Linked DNA regions of Homo sapiens. The protein of the gene in region 1 interacts with the protein of each later gene in a biochemical or structural test. Each region holds a gene or a part of one and is shown in the gene's direction. Other genes may lie near its edges. The genes, in order: ATRNL1, SIPA1L2, MPP2, PDLIM1, CARD11, DVL3 and GRIP2.

What was found.
Region 2: the proteins of ATRNL1 (region 1) and SIPA1L2 interact in a test that uses a peptide from one of them, tested with the Homo sapiens proteins (one large-scale study listed by IntAct).
Region 3: the proteins of ATRNL1 (region 1) and MPP2 interact in a test that uses a peptide from one of them, tested with the Homo sapiens proteins (one large-scale study listed by IntAct).
Region 4: the proteins of ATRNL1 (region 1) and PDLIM1 interact in a test that uses a peptide from one of them, tested with the Homo sapiens proteins (one large-scale study listed by IntAct).
Region 5: the proteins of ATRNL1 (region 1) and CARD11 interact in a test that uses a peptide from one of them, tested with the Homo sapiens proteins (one large-scale study listed by IntAct).
Region 6: the proteins of ATRNL1 (region 1) and DVL3 interact in a test that uses a peptide from one of them, tested with the Homo sapiens proteins (one large-scale study listed by IntAct).
Region 7: the proteins of ATRNL1 (region 1) and GRIP2 interact in a test that uses a peptide from one of them, tested with the Homo sapiens proteins (one large-scale study listed by IntAct).

Annotation. Positions count from the first base shown.
Region 1 is NC_000010.11:115,096,365-115,099,864, forward strand, and holds part of ATRNL1 (attractin-like protein 1 isoform 1 precursor), read left to right. Parts: intron 1-280; exon of another isoform or gene 281-475; intron 476-3,500. UniProt on the Homo sapiens protein: May play a role in melanocortin signaling pathways that regulate energy homeostasis.
Region 2 is NC_000001.11:232,397,465-232,400,299, reverse strand, and holds the end of SIPA1L2 (signal-induced proliferation-associated 1-like protein 2), read left to right. Parts: intron 1-1,026; coding exon 1,027-1,173; 3' UTR 1,174-2,335; downstream 2,336-2,835.
Region 3 is NC_000017.11:43,904,737-43,908,787, reverse strand, and holds the start of MPP2 (MAGUK p55 subfamily member 2), read left to right. Parts: upstream 1-1,251; 5' UTR 1,252-1,314; exon of another isoform or gene 1,315-1,575; intron 1,576-2,036; exon of another isoform or gene 2,037-2,104; coding exon of another isoform or gene 2,105-2,233; intron 2,234-2,636; exon of another isoform or gene 2,637-2,708; intron 2,709-2,807; exon of another isoform or gene 2,808-3,420; intron 3,421-4,051. UniProt on the Homo sapiens protein: Postsynaptic MAGUK scaffold protein that links CADM1 cell adhesion molecules to core components of the postsynaptic density. In CA1 pyramidal neurons, required for synaptic KCNN2-containing channel function and long-term potentiation expression.
Region 4 is NC_000010.11:95,288,204-95,292,167, reverse strand, and holds the start of PDLIM1 (PDZ and LIM domain protein 1), read left to right. Parts: upstream 1-1,164; 5' UTR 1,165-1,252; coding exon 1,253-1,348; intron 1,349-3,964. UniProt on the Homo sapiens protein: Cytoskeletal protein that may act as an adapter that brings other proteins (like kinases) to the cytoskeleton. Involved in assembly, disassembly and directioning of stress fibers in fibroblasts.
Region 5 is NC_000007.14:2,935,868-2,939,367, reverse strand, and holds part of CARD11 (caspase recruitment domain-containing protein 11), read left to right. Parts: intron 1-536; coding exon 537-689; intron 690-1,335; coding exon 1,336-1,461; intron 1,462-2,133; coding exon 2,134-2,331; intron 2,332-3,500. UniProt on the Homo sapiens protein: Adapter protein that plays a key role in adaptive immune response by transducing the activation of NF-kappa-B downstream of T-cell receptor (TCR) and B-cell receptor (BCR) engagement.
Region 6 is NC_000003.12:184,165,377-184,168,876, forward strand, and holds part of DVL3 (segment polarity protein dishevelled homolog DVL-3), read left to right. Parts: intron 1-45; coding exon 46-115; intron 116-749; coding exon 750-889; intron 890-1,069; coding exon 1,070-1,146; intron 1,147-1,229; coding exon 1,230-1,297; intron 1,298-1,449; coding exon 1,450-1,599; intron 1,600-2,203; coding exon 2,204-2,335; intron 2,336-2,521; coding exon 2,522-2,689; intron 2,690-3,500. UniProt on the Homo sapiens protein: Involved in the signal transduction pathway mediated by multiple Wnt genes.
Region 7 is NC_000003.12:14,509,343-14,512,842, reverse strand, and holds part of GRIP2 (glutamate receptor-interacting protein 2), read left to right. Parts: coding exon 1-66; exon of another isoform or gene 67-404; coding exon of another isoform or gene 405-406; exon of another isoform or gene 407-1,150; intron 1,151-1,363; coding exon 1,364-1,430; intron 1,431-1,532; coding exon 1,533-1,678; intron 1,679-2,878; coding exon 2,879-3,023; intron 3,024-3,500.

The DNA of each region.
Region 1 (3,500 bases):
TAGTAGAAAAGAATTCTTCTTGGTAAAGTACATGCAAATAAACCTATGAAAGGTTTATTTGAAGATAGTAGCTTGTTTTACCTGGCATTTGAAGTAATAACACAGTGGGAAAGGCTTTAACTAGAAAATCTCACTTCACTAACTATCTTGAAAATCTTTTTCTAAACTGAAGGATAGCAACCTTACAAACAGACATTAAAAATGATTGATCAATCTTGGTAAGCAGGTGTCAAAATTAATTGGTTGGCTCCATGGTAACTTAGCTTTTTTTCTACTATAGGGATTTCGCCAGGGAATAAAAATGTTCTTCAAATGTTTCTTGAGGATAGAAGATTGATAGTTGGGGGAAGAAATGCAGAAGCAAATATAGTATCAAAAGTGGTACTTCAGTTCTCTTAGCATTGATTCCAGTCTTCTGTTTCCATTTGAAAAGAATAAAGCACTCAGAATAACAAGCCATTCCTTCCTTACACAGGTAAAACAAAAGGAACATTGATTTTTCACCCAAAGCTAGACTAAAGGACTTGGGATTGAGAATAGGAAAATATATTTGAAATATAATAATCAAAGATACAGACTCTAATTCAAGTTGTATTTATTTGAATAGTTCAGTGTAATGTTAAGCAAGAAAATATTCTGCTATAATCTATTTGAATGACGTTCTCTTTTAGAAGGGAGCCCTTGAGAATTAATTTTGTAGAGTAGAGATTTATATAAATTTATATAAATATAAAGAGTATTGCTCTTTATATTAGTCAAATATAAAGGGGTATATTTTTACCCCTCTTAGGTTAGTCAAATTTGGATACTTCATTTCACGCATTTAAAATGGAAGTATGCTGGGTGCCGTGGCTCAGGCCTGTAATCCCAGCACTTTGGGAGGCCGAGGTGGAAGGATCCCTTGAGCCCAGAAGTTTGAGACCAGTCTGGGCAAGATAGTGAGACCTCATCTCTACAAAAAATATTTTAAAAGTAGCTGGGCATGGTGGCACACACCTGTGGTCACAGCTACAAGAGAGAGTGAGGCGGAAGAATTCCTTGAGCTCAGGAGGTTGAGGCTGCAGTGAGCTGTAATCACGCCACTGCGCTCCAGCTTGGGTATCAGAGCGAGACTCTTCTTAAAAATTTATATATACATATATGAAGCATTCTATTTGTAGTGACAGCAAAATGAAGATGTAATGATATAATGTCAGGAATTAGGTTGTTATTATAGACAAAAACGGGCAGAATAAAGTGTGTAAACTCTTCCCCTAAGCTGTTAAAAATATATGCATATTGCCTGGCTTGGTGTCTCACGCCTGTAATCCCAACTCTTTGGGAGACCGAGGCGGGCGGATCATGAGGTCAGGAGATCGAGACCATCCTAGCTAACACAGTGAAACCCCGTCTCTACTAAAAATACAAAAATTAGCTGGGTGTGATGGCACGCACCTGTAGTCCCAGTTACTCAGGAGGCTGAGGCAGGAGAATCGCTTGAACCCAGGAGGCGGAGGTTGCAGTGAGCATAGGTCGCGCAACTGCACTCCAGCCTGGGCAACAGAGCGAGACTCCGTCTCAAAACAAAACAAAAATAAACAACAACAACAAAAAACAAATATATATATATGCATATGTAAATACATATATATTTGGAATCCTTTTTACTTGTAAGGAAACTGACAGTAATTATAAACTTAAACTGAATGTTCCCTGTCCCTAAGACTTCTTTATTTCAAAGTTTTATTTTAATGGATAATTTATATCCATGGATTATTTTTACATTATTAAAGTGTATAATCACACAGTAGGAATTTAAAATAATTTAAATTGAGTGTTTCTTAGATTCTAAATTGATAAGGTAAGTTACTTGTAGAAGCATAGTAGCATGGTTTTCAAGAACACGTGTCTGCATGATTTGGCCCCTTTAGCTGATTAGACTCAGGCCTCCTTTCCTCTGCCCTGACTGGCCTTTTGAAGTTCCTTGAAAGTGTCACATTCCTTTTGGCCTTAGTGCATTTTATACACGTAACTGTGAACTCTTTCCTCTCTGGTCTTTGCTTGGGTGATTACTGATCATCCTTCTAATCTTAGCTTAAATACTAGTTTCTTTTTTTTTTTTTTTTTTTTTTTTTTGAGACCGAGTCTGGCTCTGTCACCCAGGCTGGAGTGCAGTGGCGCAATCTCGGCTCACTGCAAGCTCCGCTTCCTGGGTTCACGCCATTCTCCTGCTTCAGCCTCCCGAGTAGCTGGGACTACAGGCGCCCGCCACTACGCCCGGCTAATTTTTTGTTTAGTAGAGACGGGGTATCACCGTGTTAGCCAGGATGGTCTCGATCTCCTGACCTCGTGATCCACCCGCCTCGGCCTCCTAAAGTGCTGGGATTACAGGCGTGAGCCACTGCGCCTGGCCACTTAAATACTAGTTTCTAAAGGAGGCTTGTCTGACTCTTCACACTAGGTTACCCCTTATATACTGCCCTAATAGCACTATTTTTCCTTCTTAGTATTGTCAAAAATGAGGTGTTTAATTATAATTTTGATAGTTATTTAAACAAAATTTTTAAGAGATTGAGGTATAATTGTCAAACAGCACAATTTAAAATGTACAATTTATTTAAATTATACAATTTGATAAGTTTTGTCATATGTATTTGCATCTGAAACTGTCACCACAATCAAAATCATAAAAATACCAATCACGCTAGAAAGTTTCCATGTGTTTCCTTTGTAAACCCTCCCTTTTCTAGTTGCCAATTCCTGTCCCAGGGCAACTATTGATCTGCTTTCTCTCACTATAGATTTGTTGGTATTTTCTAGAACTTTTTGTAAATAGAATCATACATTATATACTTCTTTTTTGTCTGGCTTCTTTCACACAGCGTGTTTATTTTGAGATTCATTCATGGTGTGTTAGTAGTTTATTCTACTGCCGAATAGTGTTCCAGTGTCTGGATACACCATAATTTGTTTATCCATTCAACTGCTGATGGACATTTGGATTGTTTCAAATTTTTGGCTGTTCCTTATAAAGCTGCTACGAAGTTTCATGTGGAAGCCTTTTTATCTTTGTATGGTCATATGCTTTCCTTTCTCTTGGGGAAATAACCTGAGAATGGCTGGATCATATGGGTAGATATATGTGTAACTGTTAAAGAAACCGACAAACTGTTTTCCAAAGTAGTTGTATCATTTATGTTCCCACCAGCAGTGAGTCAGTGTTCTATCTAGTTAATTTCACATCCATACCAATACTTGGTATGGTTAGTCTTTTAAATTTTTGTGATTCTAATAAGTGAATGGTATATTATTGGGTTTTAGTTTGCATTTCCCGAATTACTAATGATATTGAGTATCTTCTCATGTGCTTACTTGCCATCCGTATATCTTCTGTAATAGGCATTTATTCAAACCTTTTGCATGTTAAAAAAATTTTCTTACTGATTTTTGTGAGTTCTTTACATTTTCTGGATTACTAGCTTCTTATGAGGTATATCATTTGCATATATTTTCTACCAGTC
Region 2 (2,835 bases), on another chromosome or scaffold:
AGCTGTGGGACTCAGACTGTCTTGGGACTGAGAGTCGTGGTGAGGAATGTCCGGGGAGAGTCAGTATCCAGGGTGGGCTGCAGCTGCTTCTTAGAGTGAAGTGAGTCTATCCAGGGTGGGCTGCAGTTGCTCCTTACAGCAAAGTGAGTGGTCAGCTCTGATTCAGGCCTCCTCTGAGGACCAGTGTCTTTTGGGCCAGTGACCAGGCAGGTGGTATTGAGGAGGGCCTTGGAAGGGCTCAGGAAACGAGGAAGCCTTGAGGGCAGGACCAGATATGCCAAGGGTGGGGGCGTCCACTCACCTCACTCAATGCTCCTGCACAGTGCTGGGGGTGGCATGTGGTGGCTGTAGTGGTTGAGTTAGATCCCGTTACAGAAATACCGATTATTACAATCTGACAGTGACCCCTCTATTCATTTAGGGCAAGGCATCCCTTTCAGCAGGGGGGGAACTGAAACTGCTGCTATACATTTTTTTATTGCTACATGTTGGAAACTCCAGATGTGATTCTTCTGAAAGTCTTGATTATTTTTACACAGTTTTTAATAGCAGATTTTAAGGGTCATTATGGAAATATAGTATAGCAGGAAAGCTTGATGGAATGAAAGACCTAAGTACATATTTTATTATAAACATATGTAACAGCTCTGCTAATTCCAATTTTCTACTTAGAAAGTTTTGTGCATTTGTCAAAAGGGTATTACCTTTAACCTCCCTGTAGTCTCCCTTTTTTGGATAGAGGGTAATATAAACTATGATGAACACCCTTCCTATATAAAGGCTATCTTAGCACCCCATGGGAGCAGAGTGGGATGAAAGAACAGGGTGTGTGGAGTGTTCATTCCCATCCCTTTGTCATCAGCAGGAATCAGGATCAGAAAAGTCCCCTCACTAAAGAAAGTCACCCCTTCTCCCCTCAAAAAGTACATAAGTAAAAATAAGAATCAAAGATTCTCGTAGCCCAGCTTAGGAGGAATGAATGTATCGATCAGTCTCCATGACTCAGTTTATTTCTGCTCTGACCAGGAAAAACAAGACAAGGCCGTTCTCCAAGCAGAAGTGCAGCACCTGAGACAGGACAACATGAGACTGCAGGAGGAGTCCCAGACCGCGACAGCTCAGCTGCGGAAATTCACAGAATGGTTTTTCACCACCATCGACAAAAAATCTTAGCCAATCCGCACCTCATCAAGGGACCACTGGGAAATGCCCCTTGTCCCTTTGAAGTCACAAACATGTGGTTTTTCTGTGTGCTTTCAACCAATCGTAGATGTTTTTGCTGTTCCATTCTGTGTAGCACCATTCACCACAGCAGGATAGGGAGCCTCGACTCTTTCTCGGTAACCACGGCAGAGAGCAGCGCCGATGTGAAGATGAATGAATGTAACTCCTGGTGTGAAGATGAATGTAAACCCTGGCGACAGTTGAGACCTTTTTCTTTTAGACTCTGCTAAAACAGTGCTCTGGCTTGGGCTTACCTCAAGAGGGAAGATAGTTGAGTTTTATTTCCTGTATATCAGGTGACCTGGTAGAGATGTAAAGCAATTTACCATAGTTTGGGCTTTAGTATTGTAAAATAAACATGAGAACAAATAATCAGACATATACTTTAATGTTAAAGGTGCTCTATTTTTTTGGATGTACAGTAGTTTTATTTCCACAGCCACATTACCATAGCAATAAGAAAGGAGGCATAGTACATAGTTGGAAAAGCTTTGTGGGGGGATTAAAAAAAAAAAAAAGCACTGTTGTGTTTAACACTAGTTCAGATGCAGTTACCTTAGAGACTTATTTATTTGCAGGAACAAATGGTGCCTGAATATTAACAGTGTTCTGATTAAAAACAAAAAAAAGATACATATGCCTTGTAAATGGCTCACCGAGTGGTCAGTAGTCACTTCAACTCTTAGTTCACTTTTGTATAGTTGCTCTGCTGGAAAGAAATGAGAGTGAATCTGCTTACTCACTAGAACTTCCCTGTGTGCTGTGAGCCAGCGGAACCACTTGTACAATGCCAGATTTGTTTATCTTTGTACAGAAGCTTTGATGAAGTGTCTTGTATTTAACACCCTTATTTAAGCTTATTTAACCTTAAATTGTTAATTTTATAAAATTTGGTTTGGCCTGCACTACGATGAGGGATGGAGGTAGCTGCAGGCTCAGAAGAGACTGAGCTTGCACAGATCAGACCGAGAAGCAGGGTGAGAGATTCTAACGACTGGATGCTGCTAGTAACACATTGTTTGTATTGCTTTACCATTTTTAACTGTTAGATTTGAGATGAACATACATTTTGCTTTTTTAATAAATGTTTAAAAGAAGTCCACATAAGAAATGGTGTTGTCAGGTGACTAGATTTTTTGTGATCTAACATGTCAACAGTCTGACTGTATGTGAATTTATTTCAGGTCATTTAGAACCTTGATTTGTATTAAATACTGTTCAGCTCCTTTCTCATAGAATCCCAGATCGATTTCAGGAAGGAGTACCTAGCAGTTTTTAATAGCTGCTGTGTGGCGGACACTATTCTCTGAACTTTTCATCCATCTCATTTAACCCCAATGGTATCTATCCTTCATAGGTAGGAGGTGGGGTTCCCATTTACAACCACATGAACTGTGGGTCAAGTGAAGTAATTTACGCAAGACTGCCTTTAAAAAAATAAAATAAAATAACACTTTGGTGTTGCCAGCACTTTGAGAGGCCAAGGCGGGTGGATCACCTGAGGTTAGGAGTTCAAGACCAGCCTGACCAACATGGAGAAACCCTGTCTCTACTAAAAGTACAAAATTAGCCGGGCATGGTGGCACATGCCTGTAATCCCAGCTACTCGGG
Region 3 (4,051 bases), on another chromosome or scaffold:
TTCGGGATAGATTCCCATTTCTGAGATTTCCAAGCAAGTTTCCAGAATGTAATCCATTTCTTTTCTTTTTGTTTCTTTTGAGACAGGGTCTCACTCTGTTGCCCAGGCTGGAGTGCGGTGTTGCAATCTCGGCTCACTGCAGCCTCAGCTTCCCAAGTAGCTGGGACTACAGGCGCGCGCTACCACGCCCAGCTAATTTTGTTTATTTTATTTTTTGTAGCGATGGGGTTTCACTATGTTGCTTGGGCTAGTCTCGAACTCCTAGGCTCAACCGATGCTCCCGCCTCCGACTCCCAAAGTGTTGGGATTATGGGAGTGAGCCACCGCGCCCGGCCAAAGATGCAGTCCATTTATGATCTTAGGAATCCAGTTAGCAAGGAAAAGGGATGACTCTCACATTTTGTTCAGGGCAACTGGACGGGGTGGCTGAACGCCGAGGTCGGAGAAGTAGCGTAGCTGGCCCCAAATGCTAGTCGCACTGCACAGAGCCTCCCGTATTTGGAGGCCCAGCATCTTTTACTAGCAGATGTGGGGTGGAGCCGGAGGCTGGGCGAAGGCGGGCCAGTGGGTTTAACCCTTTATTTACTTTTTGGGCTGGGACTCTGAGGAAGGCTAGCCAGTTACTTCTTTATTCCATAGGCAGGAAAATGGACCAGGCCTCCCTCACCTAGACCTAAAAGAGGCTCTCGAATCCTTTCAGGAAGACATTTCCTCTTTTTTGCAAAATTTCTGGAAAGTCTGGAATCCGGATATCCACCCTCTGAGTCCTTAAAAAGCTGCCCCTGATCCCGAGGCCTTCTGGGGCTGGTATCCTGCTTCCTGGGAGTCTCTCTGAAGTCCTCCTATTCTTTTTCTCAATATGGAAGCAGGATAACGAGGAAAAGTGAGGCACGCCTGGAACTAGAACGCCGGTCTAAGCCAAGATGGGTGGGCGGAGTAATCAAGCCGGTCTCATTAGGCACTTTTACCATCGCCCCTTTAAGGGATCCTTGGGAGCCGAGGGGCACCAGCGGGTACTGGTACCAGTCCTGCCTCCCTAACCCTTCCCAGTGGGACTCCAGCAGGGCGTCGTGGTCTGTGCGGTGTCTCCCAAACCACTACCTGGCTGCCCCCGTACCAGCTGCTGGGAAAGACTACTTCCTCCGAGTTGTGCCGGCCTCCGCGTTCTCCTCACCTCCCCTCTCCTCCGGACCTCCGCCCCCTCGCGGAGAGGCCTTGCCGCTTTAAGAGCCGGGCTAGCGATTGACAAGCAATAAACGCTGAGCGCCCGGCTGCGCTGGAGCCGCCCGGAGCTAGGGGCTTCCCGGGGCGCAGGTAGGCGTCCCCCGGCCCCCGGGCCAGCTCCTATCCCAAGACCTCCGCCTTCTTTTCGTCCTGACACGGCACTTAGGACCCTATTCACTGGGTTTAAACTCCACAGGCCCCTTTCACCCAGGCCCGTTCCCTCCCTGTCCACCCGCCCCCGCCCCTGGGCCCTCTTTCTGGGGTGCTGGTTGGGAGAACCAAGCCCCGCTGCCCATTGACACTGGTCCCCGCCCCTGCGGTAGGGGCTCCAAAGTGGCTTCAGGCACCAAGGTGGTGAGCTGTGAGGGGCCCCGGTATCTGCGCGGCCTCCCCGGGGGCTGTGCGGGTTGGGGGTACTTAGAAGCCCGGCATTACGTAAGAACCGTGCTGTTAGCGCTTCCGGGGGTTGGGGAGCGAGACAGAGGTTGCGCTGGGTCCCGGTGGCCCCCTGGTCCCCCTAGGCAGCTAACACCACAATCTTCCCTGGGAGGGGGTCCGCAGAAGGGCGCGCGCTGCTTCTCCCGCTTCCCAAGCTGTAGCGGGGCGGGTCGGGAGCCAGGGTTAGGGTCTGGAGACTTGGGAGGGGACCGGTGCCAGAAGCGAAGAGCTAGGGTTAGAAAGTTAGGTCAATTAAGGGGGGGGCGGTGCGGATAAAGACGGGGTGGGGGTTGGCCGGGGCAGTCATTTAGTGACCTCATCCCTGGTCTCCGGCGGGCGCGCACGTAGAGAGCCTTCTTTGATGGCTCACAACACGCCCCCCTCCCCCAGGTCCTAGCGCCCAGGGTGTTAGGGCTGGGTCCGTTGGGGCAGGGGTGATCTGATGGTCCAAGCATGCACGTCCGCCTGGCCTTTCGACCCCATCCTCTGGCCCTCAGTTCTGTCCAGACCTCCCCGCGACCTCTCGCTCTCCAAAGCGCCTTTGTCAGACCTTTCTTCTCCGCACCTCTTTGTATGTGTATGGATGGAGGGATGGGTGGGAGGTTGGAAGAAACCTCTCCCTTTCACTGCTGGTCCGCTCGCCTGCGGACACTATGGGTGATGTGGATATCTCGGAGGCAGAGCTGAGAGGGCATCTGGGCCCAGGCTTTTGGAAGCCGAGGTGCAGGTTCCCAGATGTCTGGGTGCAGGACCTTGGCACGGAGCCAGGCTAGCTTGCCTGGCACTGCCGTTCTCCTGTGGACACAGCCAGGCCCCGCCCTCTCAGAGGCTTGGACGGGCGTGGGGGAGCAAAGCCAGCCGATGCTCTGGGAACCGATTCCCCGGGAGAAAACCCAGGCAGGCTGGGCAAGACTTCCGAGCGCAGGGATTTCATACAGGATCCTCCCTGCCTTTTCCCGCCCTCCACGCTCTAGGGAAGGAGGACTTCTGGAGTCCCTTCTCTGACCCTGTGAGGGAGAGCAGCGCCAGCCAGGAGAAGGCTCCAGGTCATCAAGGCCTGGGAGGGGGAGGGAAGGGATCCCTCCTCCCTGCTCTCTAGGAGTAGAGATTGGCACCAGGGGCACGGGCCAGCACAGTGGATCCTGGGCATTTCTTCCAGCCTGGGTGTAGCCTGAATAGGGGTGCCCTTCCTCTCCCTGAAAGCACCTTTATTCCATGTCCTCAGCGGCAGAGCTGGGAGGAAAGGGAACCATCCCCCTCACTTTTGTAATTTCTGTCACCTGAGCTCAGGTGACCAGCTCAGGCCTGAGAAGGGAATGGGAGCAGAGAGGGTTTTATTGAAATCAGGTACTAGTCCTCTGGGAAGAATCCTCTTTTGGGGGGAGGTGGAGTTGCCGTGGTTCCCCCACCCCCAGGACTCAGCAGGCATTCAGTCCTAAAGTGGGCACTGCCAGATGCTTCCCCCCACTCCCCACCCCTGCTGTGAGCCACTGCCTCCTGTTGTCATGGCAACTGGGAATTAGGGTTTTATCCAGCAGCACATGCCCAGGAAGGCAAAGGGAAGAAGGGTGGGGGGTAACCCCCTGCCCTCTCCTGGGAGAACGAGGGAGCCACTCCTAGCCTGGGGAGGCCCTGGAATGGAAACTGGGGCTGTAGACTCCATGCTTGGTTCTGCCCAGAGCACTTGGTCTCCTTGTGCCAGCTCTGAGCTAAGAAAGGGAGAGAGGAGAGAGAGCCAGCCAGAGGGGCCGTGGAGAGGTAGATATCACTCTGTCAGCCCCCCAGATAAATGTGGAACATCGGCGCTTTGGTAGGCCTAGGTTCCAGAAGCAAATAAAATCAATGTGGTTCTGACTCTCAGGGAACCTGCAGTCTAGGAGTACTCATGTTTTCTACTTTGGCTCAAATTCTGGACTCTTTTATTATTTTTTAAATGACTTTTTTTTTTTAAGACAGGTTCTTGCTCTGTTGCCCAGGCTGGAGTGCAGTGGCGCAATCATGGCTTACCGTAGCCTCGACCTCCTGGGCTCAAGAGATCCCCCTGCCTCAGCCCCACAAGTAGCTGGGATCATAGGCATGCACCACCACACCTGGATAATTTTTAATTTTTTTGTAGAGATGGGGGTCTCGCCATGTTGCCCAGGTGGGTCTCAAACTCCTGGGCTCAGGTGATTCTCCTGCCTCAGCCTCCTAAAGTGCTGGGATTATAGGCGTGAGCCACCTTGCTCAGCCAAATTATAGTCTTACCCTCTAAAAATTCTACTTGTTTCCTCTTCAAAAAACAAACAAACAAAAAATACAACAGGAAGAAACACTTTATTTATATACTTATTTTTGAGTCATAAAACCTGGATTTTCATTTTAGCTCTCCTTATTAGCTTTGTGAACT
Region 4 (3,964 bases), about 20 Mb from region 1:
GGGATTCCAGGCGTGAGCCACGTGTCCGGCCCCTAGAAAATGACAGAGAGTGGTGGGGATGTCTGGGAGAACAGCATTGCAGACAGGGCCCTGAGGCAAGGCCCTGAGTTAGGAGCAAGGAGCACAGCCTGGCAGACTGGGGGGCAGGTGAGGAAAGGGCAGGAGGAGTTGGGGTCAGAGAGGGAGTTGGGGCCATTCTAGGGGTGGCCTTGTAGGCATTGTAAGGATCTGGGTTTTCACTGGTGGTGAGGTGGGGACGCCATGGACAGCATGAGAAATGGTCTGGTCCGGCGTGGAGAATGCACTCCACCGGGAGGGCGTCAGGGGGAGCCTGGCTAGGAAGCTGGTGGGAGGCTGGGAATCCAGGTCCCGGACTCAGCTCTTCTTTTGCATTGACTTGGCCCTTGGCCCGCCCCAAACTTGAGGTTTGAACTGTTGAGGTCAGAACCTACCATGAACTCCAGCCTGGAGGAAAGATTTCTAGGAAGGCCTTGAAGTTCAGTTATAACCTGAGTGATGGTCTCATTAGCATTATAAAAGTTCCAGGATGGGGTTCTGCAGCACTGGGCCCGGGCAGTGGTCCAGATGCTGACGAGTGGTGTAGCGTCGGGCAAGTCTTCTCACCTACTGAGCAGACTCAGTTACTTCATCTGTAAAATGGGACTAAACGTCCCGGTTGCCTCAGCATCAAATGAGATCGTTCGAAAGCACCTTTTAAACATCATTACCGATTACAAAAAGCAAATGGGAAGTCGGAGCCGACCTCAGAGGGCTGACTTGGCACAGCACTTCAAATTTCTCGTTTTACAAAGCACGAGGCGCGAGTTTGTCTCGCTGTCAGGACCTGCTTCCCTCTCACCTAGCACCCGCCCCGGGCCCGAGAGCCGCGGTGCGGCCGTGCGTACAGGAGGGAGGGAGGCGGTGTGGGGTCCCGGGCAGAGCTGCTGAGAGCCCCGGCCCCGCATCTGACTCGCGCTCTCTCGGCGGGACTCCGGGCCAGGGCCCCCAGGCCGGCGCGCAGGGCGGGGAGCGGCTGCGGGCGGGAGGACGGGCGGGGCGGCGGGCGGCTACGCGGCCTGGGCGGAGCCGCCCCCGCCCTGGCCCTCGCGGTTGCCCTGCCCCCGCCAGCCCCAGGCTCCCCGGGCCCGCGCCGCGCCGCTCTTTCTCCGACAGCCGCCGGGGGTGCCCTGCAAGCTGTTCCGCGCGTCCTGCCCGTCTGTCCCCGCGGGTCGTCGCCCGCCACAGCCGCGCCATGACCACCCAGCAGATAGACCTCCAGGGCCCGGGGCCGTGGGGCTTCCGCCTCGTGGGCGGCAAGGACTTCGAGCAGCCTCTCGCCATTTCCCGGGTAAGAGCAGCTGGGACGTGCGTGGAAGCGGGGCGCTATGGGAGGTGATATGCGGAGACTGGGGCCCCGCGGGCGCGGTCGGGGACGGAGTCGGAACCGCAGCCGGGCGCGTCCAGGTGCGCTGTTAGTTGAGCGCTCTCCGCGCGCCCGGGCCCCGCCGCTCCCCGCCGCCCCTTCGCGGAGGCTGCGCTCCCGGGCTGGTCGGCCCGCCGCGGGCGCGCTCCGTGTCCGCCAGAAAAAAAGAAGGCAGTTTTCGTTCTTTGGCCCCGGAAGCGCGGCGGGGCGGGTGTTAGTTCTTTGTCAACCAGCGAGGGGACGAGGGTCCCCGCAGATCCCGCGCGCTGGGAGATGGCACTTCTCCCTTCTTCCCAGATCGCAGTGCAGCCGAACGCAACAGGAAAGACCTGGAAAGTGAGGTGGGGTGGGTGGGAAGTTTACTGGGGTGGGGGGCAAGTGGGATTAACCTAAAAAAACAACCGAAACACGCTCTTTGGACTTGACCCACGGCCGAGGCTCGCCCCTCGAATGGCTTTTGGAGAATGTGCTGGATTCGGGAAATAAACACAACAAACAAACTCAAGTAAACCCTCTTGGTCATTCTCCCCTCTGCAGAACGTGGCCCCGCCGTCATTCTTCCTAGCATTCCCAGATTATCTCTTTCCCCTCCCCGCACCAGCCCTTTTTTCTCAGGGCATGAGTAGATACTGCGATGGGGTGTCCACCTGGGGTGGGGTTGAGGTGCTTGAAATCTAAGAGGGGCTTCGGATCTTTAGAAGGACTCACGTTGAATCAGGGGCCACCAGAACCATTGCCCCCCTAATAAAGTGAAACCCCCAGGGAGACCCAGACTCAGTGTTCAGAGGTCTGGGCTTTGGCCATTTAATCTGGCCAAACACAGGTTGATGTCCCACTAAGAGATGTCACGTTCAGTGCTTGGGCACCAAGAAGAGACTCAGTAAGTACCTCGAATGAGGAAAGGGAGAAAAAGAAGTCCCCTTTCTCCCCACCCATGGCCACTCCTTGCCTGTAGGCGGCACATTCCATTCTTGGGCTCATCTGCCTGCTGAAGCTGCCCTTCAGCTTGTCTCCCAGACTTTCTAAACATCCTTCTTTTTCACTTGGGGTTGGGGGAAGGGTGGAGAAGAAAGGGAAATATCCTTATGGATCCTTTTGACTCAAGCTCCTGCGTCCAGCAGCTGAAGGAGTTTGGTGGGAGGTGCAGGAGAAGAATTGGTGGCCTCCTCTTGACTTGTCTGCCAGCCACAGTCCTACCCATGCTTCTTTCCCGGTTGGCCTGGCCCAGTGAGGAGGTCTTCTCTATCTCACCCCCCTAAAAGAGTAGGCGGGCCAGTTTTTGGGCCTTATCTTCCACCTGTTTGCCTCGTCCCACAGAGACCTCTGATTATTCTCAAAGGTACACACTGCCTTTCCAGCCACCAGCCTAATTCCTCAAGCGCAGGAACTGTGCCTTCCCCAGAATCGTCCCCGAGCCTGGTAGCAGACCTGTACCTGGCCGGGCTGGGTAAATCCTTGCAGGCTTATTAATAAATGCTTGTCCAGGGAGGACATTGTGTCTGCACATTTCAACTCGCTTACCTCATAGTCCATTTGTCCCTGTTCTTTGTGTCTATAATTAACCTGTCAGCCCTCTCCACTTCTGAGATTTATATATGACATGAAACCCTTTTTTAAGTAGTGGAGGATGTATTGGCAATCTGTTAAAAGGGCAGTTACTGCCTTTCACTTTAGCTGCTTTTAAAAGTCTTAATGCATGAGTGAATGATGGAATGGGGTGGAAAACACCACACTGTGAATTCATTGGTTTTTACCTTCATATATTCACTCATTTATTATTTATATTATTTATTTATGGCGTGTGCACGTGTTTAATGAGCACGTATCATATTCCAGAAACTGTGCAAACGCCTCAGAAATGAGAGGGCACAGCTCCATTCTCAAGGTGTTCATGGTCTAGTGATGGAAACTAATCTTTATAATGCCCTTGGCAGGTGCTTTAATTGAAAAGTGGAAGTGACTCAGAAGAGGTAACATTTTCATGCTGACAGTAATTTATTTGTTTCTCTTCAGCTCCTTATTAATACATGGAAAAATTGTGAGCCTGTTCACCTCATGGGAATGGGAAAGTCATTGTCATAAAGGGACCCTGGTGTGGCCATCTGAGATCTGGTGCTGGTCCAGTGTCTTCTTGCTTGAGCTGTACCTGGGGTGAATCTTCCACTGTCTGAGGCTACTTAAAAAAAAAAACCTCTGCAGTGGGGATAGCACCAGCCCTTGGCTGTGAGTTAAGGTATGTGAGAGTGCTCCGTAAATAGTGATAGTGAGGAAATGTGAGCACTGACAAAGAGCTGTACACACTTTCTGATTGGTAGGTATGCTACATTATTTATCATCCTGGGCAATTTGCTGGTATAGTTTTGTATATGATAGACTTTGAGTCTCCACACCAAAGCAAACCATAAAATTAGGCTGGGAGAGGAGTGCCTTTTATTTAAATAACCATGTTTGCTTTCTCTTGCATGAATTATTGTGGTATTGGCTCCAGTCTTTTGCTAAACTGCTAAAGCTTCTTAATATAATGCTAATCTTATGTACTTG
Region 5 (3,500 bases), on another chromosome or scaffold:
TGCCTCCCCACACTTGTCATCGCCGAGTCACTTGTGGGCACAGAGGAGGAAGTTGCTGAGGAGTGACATCCCAAAACATATCTACAGGGCAAGAAAAAAAACATGCATCCTCCTGCTCCCTCCAGAACAGTCCCCCCAGGAGTGGCTGCCTGGTATATGAGGCTCTGTTTCAGAGCCGAGGATGAACCCAGCTTCTCCAGAACAGATTCCTTGATATTTCAGGGGCAGCATCTAAAAAGTGTTTCGGGTGCAGCAACTGCTTCTCTGCGCTCCGATAAGCGCCAGGGAGAACAAAAGGCCCAGGATACGCCCAAGCAAAAGCCAGTTTTCTGCTTCTTTCCAGGCAATAAACTTCTTAAATGCTAAGCTTCTTAGAGACCCCAGGGGACATACATCTCTTCTTGCCTCTACCTTCCAGGCACAAAACCTTCTGCTCTGTCCGTATCTGTTGCTGGTTCTTCTGTCCCCTGCCCTCCAGGACCACCTGGCTCCCCACCCCGACCCTGACCCTCTGAAACCTCCTCCCTCCCACCCAGGCCGGGAAGCGCAGCCTGCCAGACTCAGACAAGGCCATCCTGGACATCTTGGAACACGACCGCAAGGAGGCCCTGGAGGACAGGCAGGAGCTGGTCAACAGGATCTACAACCTGCAGGAGGAGGCCCGCCAGGCAGAGGAGCTGCGAGACAAGGTGGGAGTGGGGATCGCCCGCCCAGCGGTGCCCTCGGCCGGCCCCCTTCACACCAGGGGGCAGTGGTGTGTGTCAGCAGGACCTCCCTGACCCCACACTCCTTTCCAGGGACTAGATCAGACCCCTGGCATAAATCCCCTGTACCTCCCAGTATTCAGCCCCTGGCAGAAGCTGCAGTTTATCAACCAGATGAGGGCCTGGGGGTGGGAGCAATGTGGGCAGAGGGGAGGGTGAGGGCTTGGGATTGGGGGAACCCACATACCTGCCAAGGTGTGAGTCTCAGAGCCTCACCCACACCTTGCGGATTGCAGGATCCCAGATGTGCCGGCCACCCTTGGGCATGTACAAGCTATTGCACCAGCTTAGCACCTGTGTCCCCCTCCTGACTGAGATCACATTGTCCTCCCCTATGTTACCTGGTCTGTAGTGGGTTCACAACAATGCTGGGTTGATTGGTCTCCTACCTTGAGCCCCAACAGTCAGATAGTCGGTTCCCAGAAGGGCAGGCCATGTCCTGACCATGCCAGCTTAGGGAGGGACAGGCCAGCTCCAGCCAGCTGGCGGGAAGGCACGAGCAGAGAACAGCTTTCAGTCCTGACCTATTGATTGCTCGATGCGCATATTGATTTCTCTGTGTGGTTCACAGTACCTGGAGGAGAAGGAGGACCTGGAGCTCAAGTGCTCGACCCTGGGAAAGGACTGTGAAATGTACAAGCACCGCATGAACACGGTCATGCTGCAGCTGGAGGAGGTGGAGCGGGAGCGGGACCAGGTACAGGCACCACCTGCAGCGTGCAGGGCGGCGAGGCTGCACAGCGGGGCCCGCACCCCAGACCACCGGCTCCTTCAGAGTGTTTTGTCCAGTGCAACATCACTGACAATGCAGGGATCACTCCTGAATCCATCTTTCCCATTTCTGTTCCAAAGATGAATTCTAAAAGATGAATTCCAAAAGGCTTTTTTGGAAGTCACAGGCGTTTGGGTAGCAGGGGGATCCGAGCTGGGCTCCAGCAGCTCCCACGACCAAGCATGGTTCTTAAATGTTGTGTGTTCTCTCGGGTGAGAGGATGGGTTCAGATCCAGCCCTGTCATTCATAAGGTGTATGCCCATAGGCAAGCTGCCACCCCTGACCTCAGTGCCCTCATCTGTAAAATGGGGATAATTACGGTAGCACCGCCTCATAGGGACAGGCTGTGGCCTTCCAGGGACACTGCATCAAAGCTCTCAACACAGAGCCTGCCACTAGCAAGGGTCGGACCATCGGCTCTGTGATCGCGTTAATGAAGAAGGTAGTGACTGACACGCCCAGGGGTCAGACTGCAGACGAGAGCCACAGACGATGTGGCTGGCCCCTGGGTTGGGATGATGCCTGTCCCTGGGCCCAGCTGGATTTGGCTGGGGTGCAACCCCCAAAGCAGCCTTCGTCCCGCTTCTCCCTGGCAGGCCTTCCACTCCCGAGATGAAGCTCAGACACAGTACTCGCAGTGCTTAATCGAAAAGGACAAGTACAGGAAGCAGATCCGCGAGCTGGAGGAGAAGAACGACGAGATGAGGATCGAGATGGTGCGGCGGGAGGCCTGCATCGTCAACCTGGAGAGCAAGCTGCGGCGCCTCTCCAAGGACAGCAACAACCTGGACCAGGTGGGGCGGGACGGGCAGGACCCCACGCCTGAAGCCAGGTGGGCCCTGGTGCCCACTGAGGGCTGTGGCCAGTCCCCACCTCCCCGTGGAGACCCACACCTGAAGCCAGGTGCCCCCTGGCACCCACTGAGGGCTGTGACCAGTCGCCACCTCCCTGTGGGGCCCCAAACCAGAAGCCAGGTGCCCCCTGGCACCCACTGAGGGCTGTGACCAGTCGCCGCTTCCCTGTGCAATGAATGGCTCCTTGTCCTTTGTTTAGTTTTGTTTTGCTTTTGAGACAGGGTCTCACTCTGTCGCCCAGGCTGGAATGCAGTGGCACTATCACAGCTCACTGCAGCCTCAAACTCCTGGGCTCAAGCAGTCCTCCCACTTCAGCCTCCTGGGTAGCGGAACTAAAGGCACACACCACAATTCCTGACTAATTTTGTAATTTTTTTGTACAGACGAGGTCTCACTGTTTCCCAGGCTGGTCTTAAACTCCTATCCTCAAGCGATCCTCCCGCCTCAGCCTCCCAAAGAGCTGGAATTACAGCCGTTTGCCACTGTGCCCGGTTGGCTCTTCATATATTTGAAGCCGGAAGTTCCCTCCCACGCCCAGCATAATCCACATCTTTTACTGTTGTGTTTGTGTCTGTTTAGTGATGAGTGGAAGCCACTCATTTTGAAGTTAGAAGATGCAGGGTAGGGCTGGGCACAGTGGCTCATGCCTGTAATCTCAGCATTTTGGGAGGCTGAGGTGGGAGGATCGCTTTAGGGCAGGAGTTCAAGACCAGTCTGGGCAACAGAGCGAAAATTTTTAAAAATTTAAAAAATTAAAATTAAAAACATAAATAAGAAGATGCAGGGCGCCAGGTGCGAGGGTTCACGCCTGTAATCTCAGCACTTTGGGATGTCGAGGCAGGTGGATCACGAGGTCAGGAGTTCAAGACCAGCCTGACCAGCATGGTGAAACCCTGTCTCTACTAAAAATACAAAAAAATTAGCCAGGCGTGGTGGTGCGTGCCCATAGTCCCAGCTACTCGGGAGGCTGAGGCAGGAGAATCGCTTGAGCCCAGGAGGCGGAGGTTGCAGTGAGCCGAGATCACGCCACTGCACTCCAGCCTGGTGACAGAGCAAGACTCCATCTCAAAAAAAAAAAAGGCAAGCTTGACCTGGCCACTTCCTTGCTG
Region 6 (3,500 bases), on another chromosome or scaffold:
TTCCTGCCACCTCCACCTGCTGCTCAGGGCCTCTGTCTATTCCAGTCCTCGTCCTTCAGCAGCATCACGGACTCCACCATGTCACTCAACATCATCACGGTCACTCTCAACATGGGTGAGTCTGAGGAAACAGCACTCTCAAGCACCTGCTATATGCCAGACACTGGGCAGACTTGAGTTCAGAGAGCGTAGAATATGTTCCCTGCCCTCAAGGAGCTCTCTTTCGTAAACATCAGCTGATACATAAACTGATCATTTTAGTATCTCACCATCAGGGCTATGACAGAGATAAGCACAGAGAGCTGTGGAAGCAGAAAATGGTATCAGGGAAGGCTTCCTGGAGGAAGTGATTTCTGAGTGCCCACTCCTTCACATCTCTCAGCCATTGCATCCTTGCTCTCCGATTTCTGCCCTAGGTACTCTCTTTATGAGACAGCTGGATATAGTAAAAGGAGCCCAACTATGGGATTTAAATCTGAGTTTGATTCCTGGCTCTGCCACTTACTGGCTTAGAAAAGTCATCTTCTAAGTTCACTGAACCTCAGTTGCCTGCTCTGTAAAATGGGACTGAGTCCCTACCTTATAGCCAGCAAGGGTTCCATGGAAGCATGTTTGAGCATGCTGAGTGCAGTGCCTGATTCAGGATCAGCAAATGTCAGTTCAGTTCCTGTCCCTTTCCATTTTCTAATGGGCTGGGAATGCGGGTAGGAACCTTGCTCCCCCTTAAGGTCTTAAATTACTCTCTATAGAAAAATATAACTTCTTGGGCATCTCCATTGTGGGCCAAAGCAACGAGCGTGGTGACGGCGGCATCTACATTGGCTCTATCATGAAGGGTGGGGCCGTGGCTGCTGATGGACGCATCGAGCCAGGAGATATGTTGTTACAGGTATCAGTGCCCATCCTAGGCGGTGGTGTGGATAGAGGGCAGGGAGGTGTCCTACCATCTGTACCCTGCTCCTTCAGAGGCCCCTTCTTGGTTGGGGGAAGACTCCCTGACCTACCAAGTTGAGTTCCCTTTTCATCCTCCCCAGCACAGCTGTTTATCCCACTCCTGGTCCTTTCCCAGGTAAACGAGATCAACTTTGAGAACATGAGTAATGACGATGCAGTCCGGGTACTGCGGGAGATTGTGCACAAACCGGGGTATGGATGGAATGGGGCACTGGGCAAGGGGCTTGGTCTGGCCTATACGCATCCTGCCTTCACTAGGACACCCTTGTTTTCAGGCCCATCACCCTGACTGTAGCCAAGTGCTGGGACCCAAGTCCACGTGGTTGCTTCACATTGCCCAGGAGTAAGTGGATGGGAGACTCAGTCCTAAAGCTGGTGCTTACATACATGAGCACTGTCTCTCCTTTCTTCTCTCACCCAGAACCCCCATATCTATCCTGTTGGGCCCAGCAGTGGGTGGGGTGGGTAGCCCATGACTCCTCATCCTCCCTGCAGGCGAGCCCATCCGGCCCATTGACCCTGCGGCCTGGGTCTCCCACACTGCAGCCATGACCGGCACCTTCCCTGCATACGGCATGAGCCCCTCCCTGAGCACCATCACCTCCACCAGCTCCTCCATCACCAGTTCCATCCCTGACACAGAGCGTGAGTGTCCCACCCTGTCTCCTGGGCCCAGCAGACAGGGCCAGGTGGGGGGACTGATGAGGGTCCATGTGGAGACTCTTGCTTGAGCATCAGAGAGGGCTGGAGATGGGGCTCGGCTCATTCCAGCAACCCCACACTGCAACTCCCCCACAGCGGGCACTCCAACCCTCACTAAACAGTGTTTGCTTCTGAACTTGTATGAGCACCCAGGGCGCCTCAGTTTCCTCTTACAAAATGGGACTCACGATATAAACTTTACCAGGTTCCTGTGGGTTTAATGAGAGGATATAAGTGAAGCACCATTGCGATGTGTGGTGTAAAGTAAGCATTCAGTAAACGGCAGCCATTTCGATTATCATCACATGCACATCGTACACTGGCCAAGCACCTGCATTTACATTATTTAATCCTTTATTCAAATAGCCTTGTAAAGTAGATATTAAAATCCCCATTTTTTACAGAAGGGGAAACTGAGTGTCCAAGAAATCAGTAATTTTCCCAGCATTGATCCCATAATTACTAGATGGTAGAGCTAGAATGCAAACTCTTGTTTACCTAACTCCAAAGCCCCTTTCTGCCTCACCATTCTGCCTCCCACCCCCAGGCCTAGACGACTTCCACTTGTCCATCCACAGTGACATGGCTGCCATCGTAAAAGCCATGGCCTCCCCTGAATCAGGGTTGGAGGTCCGTGACCGCATGTGGCTCAAGATTACCATCCCTAATGCTTTCATCGGTGAGAGAGCCCCATGGTGGGATGCAGGGTGGGTGGGGAGTGATGGGGCAGGGCAGGCCGGAGGGCCCAGGACTTGCCTTGGACCCTTCCTTTGATCTGGAGCCAGCCCCAGCCTCATAGCTTCTGTGAGGCCAGATGAGTCCAAGTCAGATGGGCCTCCCCATCAACTGGCAGCCTTGTCCCCAGGCTCAGATGTGGTGGACTGGCTGTACCACAATGTGGAAGGCTTCACGGACCGGAGGGAGGCCCGCAAGTATGCCAGCAACCTGCTGAAAGCTGGCTTCATCCGCCATACCGTCAACAAGATCACCTTCTCCGAGCAGTGCTACTACATCTTCGGTGACCTCTGCGGCAGTATGTGCCTCCCTCATCTTCTTGCCCTGTCTCCTGGCTGGGAGTGGGGAGGTAGCCAGGGAAGTGGCAGCAGACTCTGGGGAACCCAAACTGGGGGACAGCAGAGCCAGGGGCCCAATTCAAGGCCTGAGAGTTCTATGGTGGAAGAAGAGTCCAGTTTAGCCTCTTCACCTGGCCCACATCTCCCTCTTGGGCCTGGCATTTTCTAAGTGCCTGCTCTGCCTGGTACCATGTTGGTTGTTCCTAAAGCATCATCTTACTCAATATTCACAACCTCCCAGAGGCCCAGCTCAGGAGGATACTGCCAGAATAGGCCTTTTCCTTCTCACTCGTCAAGGTCTCAGCTAGGGTGTTGTAGGCTTAAAGGGAAGAACTGGAGGCCTAGGTAGCCCCGAGGAGCACACAGTCATTCCCTCAAAACAAACAGCCTGGAGGCTCACGTCATCACCAGCTCTGGGCAACAGCTGACAGACCACTGCTTTCCTCCACCACCACTCCCCATGCTGGCTGCTGGCCTCTTGACAGGTTGATGGCTTGGCTGCAGGCTCCACAGGCAGCCTCAGAGCCCTGTCTCCTGACTTCTCTCTTGGAAGGCTGGGGCTGGCTCTTCTTAGGGCTGGGAGGAATGTCTCATCTTAATAGGGCCGGTGGCCTCAAGGGCAGTTGTAGCTCTCTTGGAGCTCTGGGACCTGGTACCGATAGTGTGTGAGCAGAGGGTGTCCCAGGCAGGTATTCAGTCCTGGTGGCCCCTTATATTCTCTTCAATGTAGTTCCAACATTGGTGGGAGTAGCCTTGCCATTAAGGAATGTA
Region 7 (3,500 bases), on another chromosome or scaffold:
GCAGTGGCACCTTCCACGTGAAGCTGCCCAAGAAGCGCAGCGTGGAGCTGGGCATCACCATCAGCTGTGAGTCTCCTCCCGCTGCTGTTTGCCCCTGGGAGCGAGCTCAACTGCTGGGGAAAAAGAGCTTGCCAAGCTCAGACCAGCATTTCCATGGCGTGACACCCTGCGGGGCCCGAGGAAAAGGCTTGGGGGTGTGGGGAGGCTGGCTTCCGTGGACCCAGCTGCGTGTTCTCAGCGAGACCCCAGCTTCCCAAAGCTTCAGCTTCCCGTTCTGCACCATGGCAGTCCCCTGGCCTCGTGGGTCTCCCAGGGGGCTTGTGAGGTGCCCATGGTGAGAGAGCATTGGAAGGTGACAAATATTTAGGCTGGGTTTGGTTTTCTGCCTGCTTCTGTGTTCTCAGAGCCCAGCAAAGGCCTGGAACACAGTAGGTGCTTAATTCATGTTTGTCAAAGGAATGAAAATGAGGAATGCAGAAGAAAAACGTAGAATGGGTGAGCATGGGAAAGGTGAAAGCACTCCCGTGGCTCCCATCTTATTCTGAGTAAAAGCTGAGGGCCTCGGGCCCCAGTGAGGCCCTCTGTGCTCTGGACCCCATGACCTCTGACCTCATCTCCCGACTCTCCCCAACTCAAGCCCTCCAGCCGCAGTCAGCCTGGCTGCTCCCTGCCATGCCTGCCCCTTCCTGCCTCTGGGCCTTTGCATCTGAGACCGTTCCTCTGGCCTCTTCCCTACCTCCTTCATGGCTTTGCCCAAATGTCACTTGACAAGGCCTTCCCCGACCACCTGACTGAACATTTACCGCCCTCGACACAAGCCCGTTTCTCAGGTTTCTCCACAGCTCACTTCATCGGTGTTTAAATGTTGTTGATTGTGACCACCACTGGAGTGCCAGCTCCAGGAGGGCAGGGAGAGATTGCTGTCTGTTTTGTTCACTTCTGTGTCTCCCACCCCCAAGCACACAATAGAGCCTGGGTGCTGGCCCTGAGCCCGGTGCTGGGGACACAGACACCAAGCAGACAGCCCCCCTCCACAAAGAGCTCGCAGTTTGCTGGGGGATGGGCTGAGCAGGAGGAAAGAAGAGCTGGCATTGGAAGGGCCATGCTGGATCTTGTGCCTGTGTTATCTGGTTTACTCTCACCACATCCCCATGAGGTCTGCGGTGCCACCCCCATTTTACAGGGGGGAAACTGATGCACAGGGAGGTGAGCTGATTTGCTCACGGTCACCCAGCCAGGAAGCAGTGGGACCAGGATGTGAGTAGGACCAGTGGCTCCGAGTCCACACTCAGACCCCTGGGCTTCGCCACCCCACCCCAGGCTGAGGCCACCAAGGTCAGATTCATGGCCTCTTTTTCTCCAGCGGCCAGCAGGAAACGAGGGGAGCCCTTGATCATCTCCGACATCAAGAAAGGCAGCGTGGCACACAGGTAGGGGCACTGGGGCACAGGAAGGGAAGTGGCCAACAGCAGTGAGTATGGCACCTGCATGCACCAGGCTCCTTCCATCCCCTCTGCCCCCGACTCATGCAGGACGGGCACCCTGGAGCCAGGCGACAAGCTACTGGCCATTGACAATATCCGCCTGGACAACTGCCCCATGGAGGACGCCGTGCAAATCCTGCGGCAGTGCGAGGACCTGGTGAAGCTGAAGATCCGGAAGGACGAGGACAACTCTGGTATGGCCCTCATGCTGGCCTCCTACCTCCAGAGGCCCACCCTTTGACTAGCGGGTTCCCAGCTTGCAATTCAGGGCTCCCTCCAGCCGAGGAAGGGAGGGTGGTGGGCGCTGCTGAAGGCTGGCTGGAATGAACAAATGAAGGAGGGGGCAACACCACAGATTTCTCACTGTCCCCGGCGTCTGGGGCCCTCCAGAGCCTCTGTGAGGTGGACAGGAGTTTGAGACTCTCCCGTAGTCTCCACATCTAGCACCAAGCCTGGCAGAGGAGACCTACTGGGTGCAGCTGGTGCAGCTGGTGGAGAGATGAGTGGGTAGGGCAGGGGAAGAGCGAGGCTGCCCTTTTGAGTGGCAGGCTATGAGTGGATAAGCAAAGACTGCAGACTCAGGCCCCACTGACGCCAGATAGTGATATAAATGAGTGAGAAAAGCTGTATGGATTGGAGAGGCAAAAGGGACGGGTGAGGACTGCGCCAACTGGAAAGTGAATCCCTGATTCAAAGGGGCAGCCTCCAAATCACCAACTCCGACTCTGTGAAAGAAGGTTACTGTGGGAGGTAGATTTCTTTTCTTTTCTTTTCTTTTCTTTTAAGAAAAGTTGGGCCAGGTGCAATGGCTCATACCTGTACACCCCTCACTTTGGGAGGCCAAGGTGGGTGGAGCACTTAAGCCCAGGAGTTCGAGACCAGCCTGGGCAACATGGCGAAACCCCATCTCTACAAAAAATACAAAAATTAGCTGGGTCTGGTGGTGCATGCCTGTAGTCCCAGATACTTGGGAGGCTGAGGTGGGAGGATCACTTGAACCCTGGAAGCAGAGGTATGGCAGTGAACTGAGATCGTGCCATTGCACTCCAGCCTGGGCAGCAGAGCAAGACTCTGTCTCAAAAAAAAAAAAAAAAAAAAAACAACGGATGATCGGGGTTCCCTTTGCTTCCTGCTGGCTGCTGGAGGAAAAGAGGCCACTGTTTCTTGTCATCAATGTTGTCATTATTGTGGGTGAGGTGTGATGTTTCTTTTCTTTACTGGTATTTGGGCAGAAGATGGCCTCAGGGTCCCCAGGTTGTGCTACATGAAATCAGAGCGTGAGTGACTGGGTGAATGAATTAATAAATAAGTATGAGTGAGTGAGTGAGGCCAAGGCTTTAGGAAGCTGGGTACCCCCTCGGGGGCCTCCTCCTCATGGGTCCCCGTGCTTGCAGATGAGCTGGAGACCACAGGTGCCGTCAGTTACACAGTGGAGCTGAAGCGCTACGGGGGTCCCCTGGGCATCACCATTTCGGGCACGGAGGAACCTTTTGACCCCATTGTCATCTCAGGCCTCACCAAGCGTGGCCTGGCTGAGAGGTGAACTGGGGCTCTGTGGGGACGCATGGTGGGCTCAGGGAACACAGGAAGCAAGAGCTGGGGCTATGGCAAAGCCAAGCAAGATTCTGACCTCTGTTCCAACATTGACACTGTGGGTGACATTGGGCCAGTCACTTCCCCTCTCTGAGACTCAGGTCTGCATTTGTAAAATGAGTGTCAGCCCCTGCCTGCCAGGGCAGAGGCCCACACCCCAGCAGACCTCCTGGCTCCAGGTAAGCACTGGGCCAAGGTGTGTGCATCTTCCTGCTCCTACCTGTGTCTGGAAGGTCAGCCCTGCAAGGCTATTTGGAGCGCCTGCTGTGTGCGGAATAGGATGGGGCAGTGCCCCAGTACCCTGGTCCCAGCACTGCCTAGGGCTTTCCTGAGGCATTGGGGGACTGTCCCTGCTGCCCCTAGACTCTGAAACTGTGGCAGCTGAGGGAGCTGTAAGAATGGAGCCCTGTCCCAGGGTGAGGT